Linked DNA regions of Homo sapiens: region 2 is linked to region 1. Evidence: fine-mapped expression QTL. Tissue or cell type: whole blood. Region 1 holds a variant in brackets; the other region holds the start of a gene. All regions are shown on one strand. Distances are from middle to middle.

Region 1 (10,096 bases):
TGGCAATTAGGAAAGTTGAACTGGTCTCTGACAGTTATTTGGAATTTGTTTTTTCTCAAGTGCAAGTTACGTCACCATGACCTTTCCTATTTGTCCTGTGAGTCATTGCCCTTTTTTCCTTTTTTTAAGACTTTATTTTTTAGAGCAGTTTTAGGTTCACAGCAAAATTGAGAGGAAGGTACAGAGATTTCCCATATGCCCATTGGAGGTATTTTTAATCTTCTTTTACAAATTCTTTTTTTTGTTTGTTTGTTTTGAGACGGAGTCTCCCTCTCTTGCCCAGGCTGGAGTGCAGCGGCACAATCTTGGCTCACTGCAACCCCTGCCTCCCGGGTTCAAGTGATTCTCCTACCTCAGCCTCCTGAGTAGCTGGAACTACAGGCACCCGCCACCACGCCCAGCTAATTTTTTGTATTTTTAATAGAGACGGGGTTTCACCATGTTGGCCAGGCTGGTCTCGAACTCCTGACCTCAAGTGATCCATCCGCCTCGGCCTCCCAAGATTACAGGCATGAGCCACTTTGCCCGGCCATAGATTCTTGAAGAATATATATATTAACTATTTGCCATTGTGCTCTAAATATTTTCTTGTTTCGTTTGTGTGTCTTTTGATGTTCATTTTCCACACTGTCGTTCATTAGCTAATCTGTGAACACATGGATGCTCCCATTCACCCCTCATCAGTCAGTGACCGTGTGACCTCCGCACAGCTGTAACTGTCCACAGACTCTGTCGTCTCAATTGTGAGAGTCATATGCCCACAAGATTATGTTCTGTGTCTTTGTAGTTGTTCTGTGTTTTGAAATGATATGTATCTTCTTAACACAGTGGATGGACAGAAATGTATTTCCTTCCCACCTCAATTATCCTAACAGAATTTGTTAAATAATGTCGCCAACCTCCATTGTTTTGTGTTGCTTAATTTAACACATAATAGCTTCCTATGTGCATTAGAGTCTATTTGAAATAATTTTTACTTATATTCTGGGGTCGTACCACGCCATTTAAATTACCACAACTTTACAATATTTCCTACAATTTAGAAGGCCTCTCCTACCATGTTTCATTTTCATTATATTTTACATTATGTTTTGCATGCTTTGATATATTTTCTGCCTATTTTTCCAAAAGAACTTAAGAATCATGTTGCTAAATTCCATAAAAAGTCATTGCAGCCCCGACCTCCTGGGCTCAAGCAATCCTCCCACCTCAGCCTCCCAAATAGCTGGAACTACAGGCATGTGCCACCACACCCAGCTAATTTTTATTTTTTTGTAGAGATGAGGTCTCCCTATGTTACCCAGGCAGGTCTTGAATTCTGGGCTAACGCAATCCTCCTGCCTGAGCCTCCCAAAGTGCTGGGATTACAGTTTGATGGGTTGTTACCTGATACTGCTTTTTAGCGAATAGTAGGAAAACTACCATGGACCTTGGGGACCAAGCATGCAGTGCCAAGTGGGGCCCGCCTGCAGAAACCCCGCCGGCTGCGTCCCTCCTTCAGCGCTGTGAGCCTCTGCGGCCTCCCCAGTAAAATGGGTATAGAAAGTGATGAATAAGGAAGCTCCGGATTTTCCTCTTTGTGTTTCCTTAATCAGGTTTTAGGGTTAGGACCACGTTTGCCTAATGGGATAGACATGCTAGCCCACCATTAGAATCAAGGGTGGGAAATAATTTTTTTTTTTTTTTGAGACAGAGTCTCACTGTGTCACCCAGGCTGGAGTCCAGTGGTGTGATCTTGGCTCACTGCAACCTCCACCTCCTGGGTTCAAGTGATCCTCCTGCCTCAGCCTCCTGAGTAGCTGGGACTACAGGCACTCACCACCACGCCTGGCTAATTTTTGTATTTTTGGTAGAAATGGGGTTTCACTGTGTTTCCCAGGCTGGTCTCAAACTCCTGGGCTCAAGTGATCCACCCGCCTCGGCCTCCCAAAGTGCTGGGATTACAGGCATGAGCCACTGCACCGAGCCAGAAATAATTTGTGATGTGAGAATTACTTATTTCTTAGAAGTTTGAATGAATTCATCACTAACACCATCAAACCTCAGTAATTTGGGGGATTTCCTTCTCCAGTTACTTCCTCCACTATTGATTTATTTTGACTTTCTAGCTCTTGTTTTAACGGTTATCTTCATCTGTGTTTATTTGGTCTATGTCCTTCAGATTTCTCAGTTAACTGAAACATGCTGCATAGTATTCCTTTACGTGTTTAATATCCCTTAGACTCAAGCTTATGCCTCCACTTTTGTTTTTGCTGTGTTTCTTCTTTCCCCTTTTTTTCTTTGTTTAGATGCTATTTCATTCATCAAAAGGAACTGAGAGGCCACTGTTTAATGAACCGCACATGCCCAGTTTTGTAGTCTTTAGAAAATAGGCCACACTTTGCATCACCGTGTCTTTTCTCAGTTTTTTTGCTTTAACTTTTACCACTCACTTCCCCCCTTTTCCCTTTCTTAAAATTGTTTCTTTCCTAAGATATGATTTCAATCCTTAGTTCATCATTTTTCTCACTTTTCTTGAAAATAATAAAGACATTTAAGGCTGTGATGTGTTTCTCTAAGGACTTTCCTCATTCATCACTTTCTATAGGTTTTGATATGTCAGTTTTTTTCATTGTATTCTCTTTTTTTTTTTTTGAGACGGAGTCTCACTCTGTCACCCAGAGTGAGGGTGCAGTGGCATGGTCTCGGCTCACTGCAAGCTCCGCCTCCCGGGTTCACGCCATTCTTCTGCCTCAGACTCCTGAGTAGCTGGGACTACAGGCGCCCGCCACCACGCCCGGCTGATTTTTTGTATTTTTAGTAGAGACAGGGTTTCACCGTGTTAGCCAGGATGGTCTCGATCTCCTGACCTCGTGATCCGCCTGCCTCGGCCTCCCAAAGTGCTGGGATTACAGGCGTGAGCCACCGCGCCCAGCCCATTGTATTTTCTTAACAGACAGATATTGTCTTCTTGACTTTCTTCTCAAGACAATTTTTTCCTTAGGTAAGTATATTTTAAAATATACTATTTCTATTTCTGTTTGTTCTTAATCTCTTTTTTTGCCGTAGGGAGGAAATGTAGCCTGAATCATTTCTGCTTTTGTATTTTTATGGAGATTTGATTTGAGACTAGTATATGATGACTTTTTGTGAACATACAATGAATACTTGAAAAAGAAGAAATTATCTGTTTGTTCTATTTAATCCCCACCAAAACAACCATTAATGTTACCTTGTTTTGATCTTCAGCTCCTTTATGTGTTGCTGAATTTCTTATGTAGTTGATAATGAAGTATTTTAATTTTATAATCATATTTTTATCATTTCTACTTCTTTTTTCTCAGAGATATTTGCATATATGTTTTGCTCTGTCTTTATGGCATTTAGATTCCATGTAATTATGCTGCCACCACCCATGCCTCTCATCCTGATACCTCTCCTTATCACATGTAATCATTTTTGCTCTAAATTATTTTTTGCTATATATTAACATTGGAATCCCAGCCTTTCAACTACTTGAAGTTTACTGGTAACTCTTTTTAGTCTTCCTATTTTGTTTTAATGACCTCTCTTGCCCACAGCTTATTGCTGGATTTCATTTTTTCTTCTGGAGAGTGGCAAGCCTTTTAACACAGGAAATTAAGTTGTATTTTTTCAATCTTCAGGCACTCCAATTTTTGTCTTAATTGTTTATCTTTCCATGCTGATTACTTTTCTTTTCCCTCAATTGTTGAAACACCATGTGTTTTTTCTTTCTTTCTTTCTTTTTTTTTTTTTTTTTTTTGAGACAAGCTGGAGTGCAGTGGTGTGATCATGGCTCACTGCAGCCTCAACCTCCTGGGCCCAAGAGATCCTCCCACCTCAGCCTCCCAAGTAGCTGGAACTACAGGCATGCACCACATCATCTGCCTAATTGTTTCTATTTTTTGTAGAGATGGGGTCTCACTGTGTTGCCCAGGCTGGTCTTGAACTCCTGGGCTCAAGCAATCCTCCCATGTTGGCCTCTCAAAGTGTTGGGATTGCAGGTGTGAGCCACCGTGCCCAGCCTGTGTTTTCTCTTCTATTATTACTGAAATATTGGCAAGCTGTTTTTCATTCAACCAGCCATGAAATGTGAAGCAAACAGATGTTCTTATCTTGTACTTATTATCTTACATTGTCCAACCACACACTTTGGCCTCCCCTGTGTGAGATGACAGGAATCTGGGTTTTGGGCTTCCTCTTCTCTCTCTCTCTCTCTCTCTCTTCTCCATCCTTCTCTCCCTCCCCCACTTCTTCCTTCTCCTCAATGATTGCAATTAATGTTCTAAAACCTACTTTTTCCTTTCTGTCTTCTATGTAATTTGGTTTTTAATTTTTACGCTGTTTTTCTGACAGTTGCACTATTTGCATACTTTTATCAGTAATAACCCTTGCTCTGATAGGGCTCTTGTTTACTTATCTTTGCAAATAGGTTGTTAATTCAAGCGTGTCTTATTTCTAGCATCATTCCCTTTTACATGTTACCTTTTAAATTCAGGAGATTATTTCAAGTAGGTCCTAGAAATAAGCCATGTGATTAATACATTCTCAGAATTCAACAATTTCTAAGGAGCTCTCTGCCGTCTTTGCAACGTGAGTGACAGCTTGGCAAGATAATAAATCTCCAAGGAGCAACCTTGTTCTGTGAAGTTCCTGTAGCTGTTGTTCCATTGTCTCTGGGTGTTTGGGATGTCATCAGAGAAGGCAGAAGGGATTGTGATTTATGTATATTTTTAAAATCTGACCTCCTCCTTCCTGGCGTGGTTGCTTGCAGTATTCTTTTTGGTTTAAACATTTTGTGAGAACTTGTTTTGCTGATGGCCTCGTTAAGCCTGCAGAAGCTTTGGTGTGCAGTGCAGTTTCCTCCTCGGACTCCTTTCTCCAGGACCGGACACTGACATTCCCCGATAGCTGAGGTTTCCGGACATGGTTCCTCCGGCACCCTCCTCTGTCCCCTCTGTGCTCCAGTGGAATTATTTTTGCCTTCTTTCACTTCTTTGTCATATCTTGCACTGTTTCCACCTGTACATGTTACATCCTTTTTCCAGATACATTTTTCCAGATAATCTGTTTTTACTTCCTGTAATACAAATTCTGCTTTTTACTCTTTCTAAAGTAGTTTCGGCCGGGTATGGTGGCTCACACCTGTAATCCCAGCACTTTGGGAGGCCAAGGCAGGTGGATCACTTGAGGTCAGGAGTTCGAGACCAGTGTGAGCAACATGGCGAAACCCTGTCTCTACTAAAAATACAAAAATCAGTTGGGCGTGGTGGCACGCACCTGCAGTCCCAGCTACTCGGAGGCTGAGGAAAGAGAATTGCTCTCGAACCCAGGAGGTGGAGGTTGCAGTGAGCCAAGATTGTGCCACTGCACTCCAGCCTGGGCAACAAGCACAAAACTTTGTCTCAAAAAAATAAGTAAAAATAAAAATACTTT[C/CTT]TTTTTTTTTTTTTTTTTTTGAGACAGTCTCACTCTGTCACCCAGGCTGGAGTGCAGTGGCGTGATCTCAGCTCACTGCAACCTCCGCCTCCCAAGTTCACGTGATTCTTGTGCCTCAGCCTCCCTAGAAGCTGGGACTACAGGTGCATGCCATGATGCCCAGCTAATTTTGTGTATTTTTAGTAGAGACAGGATTTCGCCATGTTGCCCAGGCTGGTCTTGAACTCCTGACCTCAAGTGATCAGCCCACCTTGGCCCTCCAAAGTCTTGGGATTACAGGCGTGAGCCACTTCACCCGGCCTAAAGTAGTTTTTAATTAGGATATTGTAATTGAAACTAATTATACTGCAGTGAATTAAAGTTTCCTTTATCCCCAAGCCTAATGGACACATTAACTCACCTCTTTACAGGGAGGCCAGATTTCTGCCATTGTGGGAAGGAGGCAGGAGGAGCCGGGGGCAGTGCTGGGGTGGGAGCTAGGCCAGGGCGAGGCTGGCTGTGGAAGGGCCCTTTGGGCAGCCGCAGGCCATACGTCCTCAGACCTGGGGCAGCCAGGACCACCAGGGAATGTTGCTGACAGGCAGCACCAGCGCCTGAATCCCCCGCCCCAGATGGACCTGGCTAGGGGGTGAGACCCCCCTGCCACCCCTCCATCCCAGAAGCCAGGCGGGGCTGAGGCTCTATGGGTCCCCACCACACTTATTTATTGGCACCTTCATCCTCCTGGTGCACTGTGGCAGTTCCAAGGCCCAGGCTGTCCAGGTGGCTTTTGAACTGTGGAGAGGCCCCTGGACGGCTGGAACCTTCTCCCTTGCTCGGGTGAATGTGGCTCCCCGTGGTGCACAAACACGTTCAAAGACGGAACAAAGGGACACGTGTTCATAGGAGGTGAGACAAAGCGTTGCCAGCCCTGGGGAACAGGAGTGGCCTGTTCCTACTCCTATCTGGTTGTGGTTCTCCTTCGACAAGTTAGGTGAAGGCACCTTGGTAGCAGGGTACCCTTCAGAATCCAGATACCTGATTCAGCTCAGCAGCCATTTGCTGAGCACTTAGCAGGCACCTAGCCAATGGTGCCAGCCACCAAGGGCCCAGCAGGGCAGGACCTCCCCCTCCCTCCTGGAGCCACGGCCCCCCAGCACCATGGCCTCTGGAGCCCCTCACCCTCCCTTGAGGTCAGCCCTATGGTGGCGATTGTAGAGCGAGTCAGGAGCGAGACAGGAGGCCACGTGTTGCCTGCCTGTGTGGGGCTCCCATCCAAAGGCAGGGCAGCGCGAGTCACATGCCCACCCCCTGCTGTGCAAAGGGGTCCTGTGGGGGGGTCATGGGCTCCCATCAGAGAATGGCATGGTGGTGGCCCTCTGAGGGAGTTCTCACCACGCTGCTGCTGTGAGCCAGGGATCACTGAACCCATTTTAAAGGTGAAAACACCGAGGCTCCGTAACTGCCAACTCCTCAAAACCCCCACAGTGAACACCCCACGTTGGGATGTTTCCTGGCCTGGCCTTTCCCCACACTCAGTGTTGCCCTGAGCTCCAAACGAGGTGAGATTGTGGCAGGAGGGCAGGGGTGGCAAGGCTGCTACCCCGATGGAGGCGGCCAGTTGGTGGGATGCCCGAACAGGGACCAGCATGGTGCAGGGCGCCCCGTGGGTGGGCAGGATGGGTCGCTGAAGGCTCGTGAAGCCCGGCAGGGGTCCCTGAAGAGTCTAGTGGCATCGGGGGAGAGTTTCTTGTACAGAGAGGGTGAGTATGCTTTGGGCCGGCTGGCTGGGGCTGAGACCAGGGGTGGATAGGAAGGCAGAGCCCGTCCAGCCTCCAGGCCAGCGTTGCTTCACAAGGACAATGCCCCCAGGGTGTTAGCATCCAAATATAGCTTGCCGGCTGTCATGCTTAATCCTGAGACTCGGACACATGTCACACCCATGTCCCCGTGAGGTGGGAACCCTGGGGCCTGGACAGGCCTGAGTGTGGTCTCAGCCCCATCACACACAGCTGGGCAGCTAGACCTGGGTGTCCCCACAGGGGTGCCAGGACACCTCCCAGGGGTTGTAGTGAGCCCTCAGCACCCGGCCCACAATGGGCACAGCTCAGCGATCTCCCAGCATTCCCTGATCCTCGGACCCTGGGACGCAATGCAACCCCTGCTCAGGCCCAGATGCAGCCAGCATAGGACAGTCTGTGACTTTGCCTGGGACACCCACTGCATTTTAAAACTGCACTTCATTTGGCAGCCCCAGGAGCCAGGGCGCTGCCCAGGCCTGTTCTCAGAGGAGGTATTATGCCCGTCCGCCCGCCTGCTGTGGCTGCTCTGTGGGGAGCCTGACTTGGCAGCTCCCAGGCTGTGTCTGGTGCCAGACCTGGCTGCACATGGAGCCAGGGATGGATTTAGAAACCTCTCGCTTCTCCCAGCATGGGCAGAGGCGCCCAGATTCCTCCCCGGCCTGGGGCCACCATAGCAGGAGAAGGGGAGGGAGGCAGAGGAAGCCAGGCCCAGGGAGGGCCAAGCAGCCCCCAGGCAGACCCCTGGACCGTTCCCCAGTCTGCACTGCCGCCTCAGGGACCTCCCCATCACCTCAGCAAGCGCCCTTTTCTGTAAGGAGGGGGTAAGAACACCTGCCCTCGGGTGATGTGAGAAGCACACTCACGCGGGGAAACAGGTCTTAGTATTTTCTTAGACTTTGTTTTGTTTTGTTTTAAGGCAGGGTCTCACTCTGCCGCCTAGATTGGAATGCAGTTGCATGATCTTAGCTCACTGCAGACTTGACTTCCTGGACTCAAGCAACCCTCTTGACTCAGCCTCCCAAGTAGCCAGGACTATAGGCACACACCACCACTCCTGGCTAACTTTTAAACTTTGTGTAGAGATGGGGGAGTCTCTCTGTGTTGCCCAGACTGGTCTGGAACTCCTGGGCTCAAGCGATCCTCCTGTTTTGGCCTCTCAAAGTGCTGGGGTTGCAGGCGTGAGCCACTGCACCCAGCCTCTTAGACTTTTGGACAGCAGAGGGGCCAGGCCTTTAAATGTCCTGGGGGTGTGATGTGCTGTCCGTGGGGATGGTGGGGTCACCTGCCCCAGCCTCAGTGGGTCCCTCTTTTACATGCCTGCAGCTCACCGGATGCTCCCGTGTGGCACTCAGCTATCATGAGGTGTGCATCCGTCCAGGTGGACCCCAGAGCCCCGCATGCAACCACGGGCCCCGCCTGGGCCTCAGCCTCCATCCCAGGAATGGGAGAACCAGCTTCACTTCAGGCCAGGAAAGAGGGAGACTGAAAGAGCAGATGACATGGGACAGGACAGAGCCTGAGGCCCAGACAGGCCATGAGCGAGGGGAGGTGAGAATAAGGCCACAGGTGGTCCCGTGTCTGCCTTCCCTGCTCAACGTGCAGAGAGGGCTGGCCATTTTCTCCGGCTTCATCAGCATGCTCTACAGTCACTGCGAGTGTTGCAGGAGGAATTGTGGCCTCCTCCACAGCAGCGAGAACACTGAGCCCCGTTTCATCTGTCTTCCTCCTGTTTCCTTGAACCCTCCCAAGATTCTTTCTTTGGTGCGTTATTCATGTTGTTCCTTTTCCTGCAAGAGAGAGGCCTTTGTCCTCCTTGTTCAGCAAGCACCTAGTCAGTGGTAAAGTGCAATATTTAGCTGGTAACAAAGGTGTGGAATGGAATTGGCTTCCATGATTTGGCGAAGTATTTGCAAGAAGCCTATGGTGAGGCTTCTTGTTTACAGATCCACGTGTCTTAGTGGAAACCTCAGAAACACATGCTCTCGTGGATGCTGTCATTCTTCTTTTTTTGTTTGTTTTGGTTTTTTGGGGGGGGGTTTTGTTTTTTGTTTGTTTGTTTGTTTTTTGAGATGGGGTCTCGCTCTTTCTCCCAGGCTGGAGTGCAGTGGTGCAACCTCAGCTCACTGCAACCTCCACCTCCCGAGTTCAAGCCATTCTCCTGCCTCAGCCTCCTGAGTAGATGGGACCACAGGCGTGCACCACCACGCCCAGCTAATTTTTGTATTTTTAGTAGAGACTGGGTTTCACCATGTTGGCCAGGCTGGTCTCAAACTCCTGACCTCAGGTGATCCACCCTCCTCAGCCTCCCACAGTGCTGGGATTGCAGGCGGGAACCACTGTGCCTGGCCAGATGCTGTAATTCTTTGGAAAGGGATGGAGTTGGCATTTCCCCTTATGCTGTTGGGAAAATGGCTTTGCTAAGATGTCAGAAGTCCCTGTTAATACAACTTAAATAGATAAACCATAGTCAGAGCCTGGGGAAAATTCCTGTTTAACATATTCATTTGCATGCAGTGATGACACTTATTTCAAAGCATTCCTGTCTCAGCAATGCAGTAGGTCAAATGTGTAGGCATCCCTGGGCTGGCACAGGTACATAGGACTTCTAATGCTTGGCCTTTTCCCTAGTTTGATTGTACTCTCTGACCAGCCTGATTTAGGAAGGGTTTGATAGTACAATATCCGTCTTTCCCTCACGCGTGCTGCCAGTCCCAGGGGGATGGGAGCAGCCACTCACCCGTAGGAGTTCCAGGTGTGCACAGCTGGCTCAGAGCCTGCTGGCCCAGCACACATTTCCCAGGCCAGCACAGTGTGCTGAAGTGCTTTTCATCAAACAGTTAACAAGACTTCCTTATACATTTCCCCAGTGTCAAGAAAAA
Region 2 (10,096 bases), 33 kb before region 1:
CTTGTTTTTTGTTTGTTTTGTTTCTTGGGGGAATAGGGGAGATAGGCAACTTCTGTTCTCAGCTACTTGCAAGTGTGTTGGTTTTAACAGTGGGACTTCCTGCAGGACTTGAAAAATTGATAGTTGATGAACCTGAGTTCCCTGAGATACTGCTGTTTTTGTTAGTGTTTATCCAGCAATTGCACGATTTAAACAACTCACAGAACTAAGTTGTTATTGCTTATAAGCATGTTATCTTCAGAACCACTGATTCATTATTGATAATGATTGAAGTTCAGCCTTTAAATTGCAGGCCTGATAGTGAGGACACCAGTGGAGTCTTCCCCTTCATATCAGCAAGTTATTGAAAAACTATCTGTAGAATATTTGATGCTTTTTTCCTTCCAGTACTTAAAAACGTTCCATTGTATTCTGGTGGCATTATATCCCATGAGAACTCTTCTGTCACCCTTACCTGTGTTTTGTACATCAGCAGTCCCTAGCCTTTTTGGCACCAGGGACTGGTTTTGTGGAAGACAATTTTTCCATGGGGTGAGAGGGGGATGGTTTAGGGATGAAACGGTTCCACCTCAGATCATCATTCTCATAAGAAGTGCAACCTAGATCCCTTGCATGAACAGTTCACGGTAGGGTTAGATCAGCTACTGCTGATCTAACAAGATGCGGACCTCAGCTTCACTAGCTCACCCGCTGCTCACCTCCTGCTGTGAGGCCAGGTTCCTAACAGGCCATGATCTGGTACTCCTGTGGGGTTGGGGGACCCCTGCTATACGTAATGTCTTCTCTCTCTGGCTGCTTTTAAGGTTTTCTCTTTATTACTGGCTTTAGGCAATTTGATCGTGATGTGCTTTCACATATTTTTCTAAATGATTTTTGTGCTTGGAGTTTGGGGATGTTCTTGGCTCATGGGTTAATAGAAAATGTTCCACATAGTGGTTTTTCACATATTTCCCACCCATCTTCCTCCAGGGGCTCCAGTTACACCTTAGAGTTGCCACCTGGAGTTGCCTCATGGCTCTCTGATGCTTTGTTCTTTTATTGTTTTTAAGTTACGGGATGTAATAGCTACTTGGAAATCATTTGCTCCTGTTAGTTCTTGCTTTTAAGTTTTGTTAGGCAGCACCAGAATAGCCTTTGTAATTTTTACTGACTACAGAGAGGGACTTGCCCTTCTAATTATGCTCTGATGTTCTGTGTATTTCAAGATTTTTCCACTATGGTTGGTGGGAACTGGAACTATTCCCAGCTGGGTGTGGGCTCTTAGGCTCTTTTCCCTTGGGTAGTGTCCTTAGATGTGTGGGCTGAGACTCAAGTGGGACCCTCTGTGATCTCGCAAGCGCATTCTTTGCGCAGCTCTTTCCTCTCTGGTACTATGCCCTGCCAGCGTTAACTGCCTGGCTTCCCCAGACTCTCTTTGGGTTTCCTTTCTCCATCTGTGGTCTGCAAACTCCAGGCAGTGAGCAGTTGTAGCACTCACCTTATTTGTTTCCCTGCTCTCAGGGGTCCCTGCACTTCTTGTGGTCCACTGTGACAACTGTTGTTTCATACATTTTGTCCAGTTTTTTAGTTTAAGATGGGAAGGTGAGTCCAGTCCCTGTAACTTCATCTCGGCTGGAAGCAGGAATCTTATGTTAATAGTGAATTTTTAGCAGTGTTGACCAGGCTTTGATTGTATCTTTAGCCCTACTGTGTATGCAGTAAAGCACTTGGCCATTTTCTAATCTCTTCTATTGTTTAACCTAATGCCCCTCTAGATTGAGGTACCCTGGGAGAGGAATGATTTTCCATGCTACCTATGACCAATTAGAAATACAGATACATCAGACTACAACTTTTGAAGACGGGAAGCCCATAGTAGTTGCTAAGGAATGTCTTACTTAGACCCAAGGTACAGACAGGAAAATCATTAGGAGAGAACATGCCTCTAGGTGTGTGCCTTACTTCAGCATTCTCCAGAGAACTGTGAATTTCTAAAGCATGTGAACTTGAGAAATAGGCTTTGTCTTCTTAGGAAAATGTATCCTTTAGGGGGTGTTGAGAAAACAGCAGTGACAGGGGCCTCTGGCCTTGCCTCCTTGCAGTCAAGCTTCAAAGAGAAAACGTTGGGAAGAAAGACTCCTGCTGAGCCTGATGAAAGAGGAGTCCCAGTTGCCAACCAAAAACATGCAGCCAAAGTCCACAAGCTACAAGTAGAAAGGGTGGCTCAAGCCAGAGTCCCTGGATATGGAGGGCGAGTGATGGCTGCAGAAAGATGCAGGTTCTTCTCCCCCACTATGACTGGCCATCGCCTAGTGCAGGATGTACGGTGGCCCTGTCCCAGGGCTGTGCTGGCAGCCACCCTTCCCCACTAGCTGTGCTGCTCTCACATGGCACGGCCTCTGGCTGCCAGGCCTGTGCTCGGGCCTGCATTTCCCTTGTGCCCTTCTCTCCACCCAGCCCTCAGGACTGCCTGGGCTGCATTTTGTCCAGAATCCTTTGTCTCCTTACTTGCACTGCAGCTGAGGCGAGTGTCCCTTGTTCCGGGTGGCTCCTGTATTGTGGCGCTCATGTTATTGAGAGTCTTAGAGGTCACCCCCTAGATTCACCAATTGAAGGGCAGGGCTTGTCGATCTAACAGTGTCTTGCACATAGGGACACAAATGTCTGTTAAATGAAGAAAGTAGGGATGCCAGGCCACCCAATGGGGTGTATCTCCTAGGGTTCAAGAACAAGGGCTAATCAAGTCAAGAGAATGTGTGCCCTCCCCCACCATCTCACCCCTCACTCTCAGAACACTTGGGGCCCCTGCACAGGTGGTAGGCATGCTGGCCCTGAGTGCCCTCCCAGCCTGTGTTAGAAGAACCAGTGGATGACCTCGCTGTCAGCTGTCTCCCCTTCTCTGAGCTTACTGCAGGTGGCAGCAGCCTCTCAGCCACAGACTGTTCCCTTTCCTAGGAGAAAACGATGGTCACTCAGCAATGCTGTGCGCTTGCAGCTTCCACCACAAAAGAGACAGCTGTGGCCGCAGCACCAGGGTGGTGATTCTTCCCCCTCCAAGGGCAGTGGTGCATTCCTTAGCACAAGTATAAATTTACTGTTGCTAAGAGTTCTCGGAACAGGATAATACAAGAAGGAACCACTGCAAGTGAAATCCAGCCACCAGTAATGCCGAGAGGCCAGGCCTGTGCCTCCCAAAACCTGCTCCTCCGCAGGCTTCCCCGGCCCATCTCCAGAGCGCCCTCCTCTCACCACTTTACATAAACGAATGTACCCAAGATCCCCCATCAGTTTTCCATGCAGCTGCCAGAGTGCCACCAAAGCAAACCTCATCTCAAGACTCTGTGGCCAGGCCCTCACAACCTCCTGCCAGGCTCTCGCTACCTACCCATCAACAGCAAGACTCCCAGGCCATCTCAATCCCCCCAAAGAGCCCTGTTCCTCCAGCCCCACGGCTTCTGTTCACCTGCCGTGCTGTCCCCGCCTCTGCCCACCCACTCATCCTGCAGATCTGGAGCAGCATTCCAGGGCCTGGTAAGTGTGCGCCATTTTGGGTTACTACGGGTCTCGCCAGGCGCGGTGGCGAGTTTTGCCCCCCACGCTCCCCAGCGCCTGCACCTGGGCGGAGAGGTAGATAAGGCTGGGAGATCTTAGCCTTTTGCAAGGCAAACACCAGGCAGGAACGCCCAGAACCTCGGAGGAGGAGGAGGGGAAGATCCCCAGGTGGAGACCAAGGTGCCCCTCACGCTGAGTCGTCTAGGAGACCCTCCCTAGTTTAAAAAGTGTTTATTTGCTCGGAGAACATTTCAGGAGGCCTTCCTGGGACCCCAAGTGTGCCGCCCCCCGGGAGGGGCCTGGAGACGCCCGCGCGGCCCCCCTGCAAAGTTTTACCGGCCCTGGGCGCCCCCGGCCCTGGCACCCACGCGGGGAGCCGCAGTGGGCCGGGCCGCGCGGCCGCCGCCTCCCACCGCTCCCGCGCCCGCTCCCGCCCCCGGCGCGTCTCCTCCGGGCCCGCGCCGCGGCGGGCTCAGTCCTCAGCGGGGCGCGTGGCGAGCGGACTCGACTCGGCACCGCTGTGCACCATGGCCCGGGCCCTGTGCCGCCTCCCGCGGCGCGGCCTCTGGCTGCTCCTGGGTGAGTAGGTCCAGGGGTCCCGGCCGAGCTCCCTTCCCCTGGCCAGCCGGTGTCCTCTAGGGGAGAGGAGGGGAGCGGGTGGGAGCGGGTGGGAGCGGGTGGGGGCGGGCGCCGCGGGCGCACAGATCCGCTGCCCTTGAACGCGGGCCGCCCCGGTTCCAGGCGGGAGGCCCCAGGGCACAGGGGAGGCGGAGGGCGCGGACCGGTGTTGCGCTTCTCGCCGGGGAAGGGACGGCTTTGGGGACGTCGGAGAGCGGGCATTCTGGAAAGCGTGGGGTGAGTCAGCCCTGCACACTGGAGAACTAGTTTTCAGAAGGAAAAACAGGACGCGGGGTTCCCCAGCCCCGCACCTCGTTTCTCAGGCTGTGCGCCGCGGTGACTGCCAGCGCAGGCTCCCTTCCCTAGGCCGTCCCGCGTTGCAAAACCTGCAGACGGGCACCTTGCAGAAGACGCAGTGTTCGGGAATCAGAACCACAGCCGGTTTGTATGGAAATTAGTCAACACTGACAATCTGTCGCCTGCAGCAGTTGCTTGTTTGCAAATCACGTCTTTTGCAGAAATGAGGCCAGCCCTTTTCGGGACACTTCCATCGCTTTTTTTCTTTTTTCTTTTGGTTTGCTTGTTAACTTGGCACTTTTGGCTAATAGAAATTTAAAGAAGGACGGGTCCCTTGGTGAAGTGGTGGAACACGTTTGGCTTTCCACTTGGAGGGAGAAGTGGAGATTAGCGGCAGCCTCATGGCCACAGGAACTGGCCACACACTCGGCAAGAAACGGTGCTGTTCACTTCCCTTGTCTGTAATGTGTTCCTAAAATGCTAACTCAAGCCCCTTCTAAACCGCTTTGGCTATTGCATTATTCCGTGTATTTAGCTACCTTTTAACGGAAACTGTGAATAGGTTACTGGCGTGGGAGAACCCAGTGTCCCTGGGAAGGCCGGAGCAGTTGTTTCTGGTATGTGTGGCCTTTCCCCGGAAACAGTGATGTTGGTCAGAGGCACCTGCCGCACAAGACCTCTTTGGCGCTGGCACTGGGCAAGCAGGGACCACCGGCGCTGTTGTAGCTGGGGGAGTGGTTCGTGGCCCAGCGAGGAGAGGGGCCAGGGCTTCTTGGGAGCCATGGATTTCTGTTCCCTATTTGTAAACCTCTCCAAGGGGTGGCAGATCTGCATAGAATCCTCAGAGGCCGATATAATATAATCTGAAAGCGGATCTTGCCACTTTAGAGTTTTGGCTGAAGTTACGTGGAAAGCAGAATCTCGCAGTAATTTTATTCTCTCCATTTGGCTTGACATGGCCTTCACTGTTTTCATTTACTAAGAAACAAACATTTCTTTGTTAGCAAGGCAGAGAGCTGGGTTGTGGAATATTTTTTACATAAATAACCAAATAAATAAACGTTCTTTACTAGTGTCCAGAGGCTGAACCCTCTAAAGCTTGTGTAAATAAAACACTATGTCACGATCACATATAAAGACCTTCCTTGTTTACCGAGAAAACTATTCATGTTCTGCCGAAAGTCCAAAGTCCTGTAATTTTAACGTTATTTTGAGTGGCCTGGCTAATGTTATCTCTTGGAAGAACAAACAAAACTTTATGAGGTTATCAGTAAATTAATGTCATTGGAGCCCAGCTGTAATTAGTAGAATTACTGAGCACAGGCTGTTTCCTTCCCAAGCTGTAGCACTAGCCAGGTCTCCTTGGTGATGAAGATTTTGCTACCAAGAATGGCAATGTGGAATTTTTTTAAGTACTCTAGTTTACAGGTTTAAGAACTTATCTGTGACAATTTTACAATCAAGCTATTTGTCTTAGGTAGTTATTAAGAATCTCATAATCCGGCCAGGCATGGTGACTCACGCCTGTAATCCCAGCACTTTGGGAGGCTGAGGTGGGTGAATCGCCTGAGGTGAGGAATTCAAGACCAGCCTGGCCAACATGGTGAAACCCCGTCTCTACTAAAAATACAAAAAAAATTAGGCAGGCATGGTGGCAGGCACCTATAATCCCGGCTACTTGGGAGGCTGAGGCAGGAGAATCGCTTGAACTCAGAAGGCAGAGGTTGCAGTGAGCTGAGATCATGCCACTGCACTCCAGCCTGGGTGATAAGAGTGAAACTCCGTCTCAAAAAAAAAAAAAACTTAGGATCCATATATAGTTCTTTTCCCTCTGAGCATCCTGTGTACTCTTCTGTTTACTGGAGACTCTACATGCATTCTGAAAAGTTTGTGTATAGACACCGAAAAGCTGTTCGTTAACCAGGAAAGAAGGATGCGTTAGAAGCCCCTGGTTTTTCGAGTCCATCTTCACTCAGGGAATGCTGGCTGGTGCTGTCACACATGAACTCAGTCACCTGTCCTAGGAAACGCATGCCTTCCTTGGCTGTCACGTGGGAGCCAGGGGTTTTTTTAATGGCTGCAACATTAATTGAAATGTATGACTTTATATAAATACAAGTAGAATTGGAATGACAGGGACATCACAGGAAATGCTATGTGACTGCTTCAGATTGCCATGCGGTTTTAAATCTGGACACAGTTCTCATGCCAAAGTCCAAATCTGAAGGATTCTTATTTGTTAATCAACTCAGTGTGTTTGTTTACCCTCTCTGTGTGTCTAGCTGCAGGAAGAAATTTCTGGATTTTTGTCTTCCTTCCACAGGCGCATGCCTGTCAGCGTGCTTATTACCAGTCCGAGGCCAGGGCTGTTGAGAAACATTTATATCCACAGTGCAAATGGTAGATTCAGCTCCGGGAAATGTTTTAGGTGGAATCTTTAGTTAAGGCTAGTTGGAAAAGTCTGTCCTGATTTTTTTCCCCAGAATGCGCCCATTTCATAGCTTCTAATCAGTTACAACTGGCGTCTGGCTGACTGTGTGATGCAGGTGCCATGTGTAGTGTGAATTCCAGCGGAAATGCTGAGCCCAGAGAGTGAAGCCCCTCGGGCTTGCCTGCCAGTGCCCCTGCCAGTGCCCCCACCCCCAACTCAGGCCTAGAACCCCTCTTTCCTGACGGTCTTTGTGGTATGGTGGGCTGGCCCTCAGTGGTCTCTGAGCCAGGCCTGGCCATCCAGATGGTCCCAGGGAGGAGACTGGCCGCAGGCTGGACAGTCAGTGTTCTGCTGGAACCACGGGGAAAAGCTGCGTCTTTCCTCCAGGCTGGATCTGAGTGGGGCTGCCACAGTCTACCCTGTGAGCCATGGGGGAGTACCTGTCCATGACATAGAGCACTCCTGAAGCCTTTTGAGCCCCTAGATCGAGCTCATGGGGTACACATTTCCATCATGTGACCCATAACGTTTGAGATGGGTGTCTGTCCCTTGCAGGGACGGCAGGCTCAGGGGGCTCCGAGAATGGCGTACCTGGGGGACTGTGGGAATCCTGCCCAAGAGCCTCCTCCTCCACTGGGGACCCAGGGAGGCCTCCTGAAAGAAGAGGTGCTGCAGCCAGGAAGACAGTGGGAGCTGGGAAGGGGACAGGGGAGCCCGGGCTACAGTGGCCCTGGTGGCTCCAGCACTTGCTGGACCATGTGCCCACTGCCCCAGCCCACCAGTTTCTTGGTGGCAAATGAAGAGGCAGAGACGGTGCTGCCAGGGCACTGTTCAGTTCCCAGCCTGCCATACCCCCTGCCTACCTCTGACACATCCCACAGCAGACATATGAAGCCCTGGAGGGATGTCCTTGTCCCCAGTCCTCTCTGCTCCAGAACAGGAGGACTCTCAGCTGGGTGATGTTCCTGGAGGACCTGTTTCTCCTTAGTGAGGAGGATGCGTCAACACGGCCACCATAGGAGGGCTCCCAGCCCAAACAAAATCGTACTCACTTCACCGAATGATGTTATTCTGTTCAGGAAAAATATTTTTTTCCTAAGATGGTTTATTTCAGTAATTTCTGGGGCATCCGAAAGGCATCACTTTAACCATCTTTTAAATCACGGCTTCTGGGTGGCTTTGTTGGAGCAGGGTCCAGGGGGACACACTAGCCAGATGTGGCAGGAGTGCAGGGCTATGGGCCTGAGTCACAGGCCCCCCGACTCTACGTTCTCAGCTCTCTCGGTGACTCCTCCCCGTGCTCCGAGAGTGCTTCACTCCCTCCCATGTGCAGTCACATGGTGGATTCTCTGGGACCGAGAACCAGAATCCCAAAACCCCAGGCCCCGGCTGTCCACTGTGCCCTCCGCCAGGGTCAGCACCACCTCCACCCCTCACGGGGACAACTGCCCAGCCTCCCAGAACCCCCACCCCACCCACCACCCCAGGGACAGGGGGTCTTCCTCTGTGCCCCCAGCAGACCCTCAGGGTACGTTAGTGTCACCCCCACACATGCCATGTTCAGGCCCCCAGGCCTTGGCTCCGGGGAAGCAGCTCCTGAATTAGCTGAGAGTTCTGGGAAACCACGGGGGCAGGAGGGGAGGCAGAGTGACCTGGCCCGTGGCCTGGGCCAGCTCACTCCAGGGGGTGGGGTACAGCTTGCCCAGGAAGCCCTGCCCCCTGTTCTCCCGGACCACGTATCCCCACACGAGTCTCAGGAAGGACTGTCTTGAGTCTGACACCACCTGGGAGGAGAAAAGTCAGTGATTTGCCCAACCATGCGCGTGTTTGCTTCGTAAGGCCTGCCGCTGTCAGGTACCCTGGCCCCAGGCCGGGAGGGGAAGAAGCCTAGAAAGCATTGCCTCTTCAATGGACACTTGGTGACTGACACCCGGGGTGGCTCTCTCTGCAGGGATTTTCTTGCCTCTGGAGGAGACAGTTGTGAGAGGGAAGCGGGGGAGGTGGATGGATGAGGGAATGCCGGGAAAGCGCTGCACCGTTTCTCCTGGAAACACCCATCTGCCACCTCACACACGGGACACACAGGGTCAGGACTCTCACACACGTGGGACACCCAGGGTCAGGACTCGGAGGGGGCAAAGGACAGGGGTGCAGAGCAGCCTGCTACAGTAGGGTGTCCTACACAACCCAGGGCAGCTCCCCCAGAGGATGATCCCACACCAAATGTCCATAGTGCCAGGGTGGGGCAGCCCTGCTGCATGTCAACCATGTAGACATGTGGTGCTACTTAAATGCAGCAGGAAATAAACAGGAGACCACGGAGCACAGCCCTGAGGAGCAGCGGCAGCACAGTCCAGAGGGCAGAGGGCAAGGACGGTTGTGCAAAGGCCCTGCTTTGGAAGTTCCTGGAAGCCTTTTTGACTGAAGCATGGTGGGGAAGAGGGCTTTGAGCCGAAGCTGGTGCTGGAGGAAAGACCCATTCTCTAAGCATTCAGATCTCATTCCTAGGGCAGTGGGAAAACCTTGAAGGACATTAAAGGGGGTGACAGGACAGAAGGTGTGGTTTAAAGGAGCCCTCAGCTGTGGCCCCCAGCATGGGCAGGAGGCCAGGCAAGGATAGGAGTGGGAGGGTTCCAGGGAGTCCTGGAGGCGAAAGTGATGGACTCCAGTCCCTGGGCCTGGATGCAGGAAGTGAGGCAGCGCTGAGGAATGAAGAACAGCACCTGGCAGAGCTCCTGGGGGAGTAGGGAGGGCAGGGCAGGGGAGAAGAGAGGAGAGGAGGGGAGGGGAGAGCAGGGGAGAGGAGAGGAGGGGAGGGCAGGGGAGAAGAGAGGAGGGGAGGGGAGGGCAGGGGAGTAGAGAGGAGAGTGCAGGGGAGGGGAGATGACACCCCAGGCCACAGCCAGGGCTGCCAGGAAACATGGGAGCCCCAGGCAAACTGGAATTTCAGATAAACAAGAAGCATAAGCCTGTCTCATACAGTATCGGGAACATGCCTCAAAAACCACCGTTTCTCTGAGATGCAGATTTCGCAGGGCCTCCTGTCATTTGCTGCACCTGGCAGCCCCGTCCTCAGCAGCCACATGGGGTTCAGCGTTCCCCTTGGATTCTGAGGGGTGATGGTACGTAGACAGGAGTCTATGCAAATCAAGGGTTCAGAAAGAGGTATGGCCAAGAGAGGTGTTTCTGGCGGCAGCAGGGCCTGGCCTATGTCAAATC

The links. PIP is the estimated chance that this variant, and not a neighbour inherited with it, causes the effect.
Region 2: RAMP1 starts here. The variant in region 1 is fine-mapped to the expression of RAMP1 in whole blood (INTERVAL, PIP above 0.99).

What each region holds. Positions count from the first base shown.
Region 1 is chr2:237,888,534-237,898,629 of GRCh38, forward strand. All of the region lies in intron 2 of RAMP1 (receptor activity modifying protein 1), which reads left to right. Among named protein-coding and RNA genes, the nearest start is that of RAMP1, 34 kb to the left of the region's middle. RefSeq lists a silencer at 611-811 and enhancers at 6,193-10,096, 6,460-7,338. The variant C/CTT (reference allele first, on the strand shown) is at 5,437.
Region 2 is chr2:237,855,618-237,865,713 of GRCh38, forward strand. RAMP1 (receptor activity modifying protein 1) reads left to right here and starts at 4,006. Exons shown (of 3, transcript NM_005855.4): 1 at 4,006-4,110. The coding sequence starts at 4,059. RefSeq lists enhancers at 1,818-2,606, 2,607-3,393.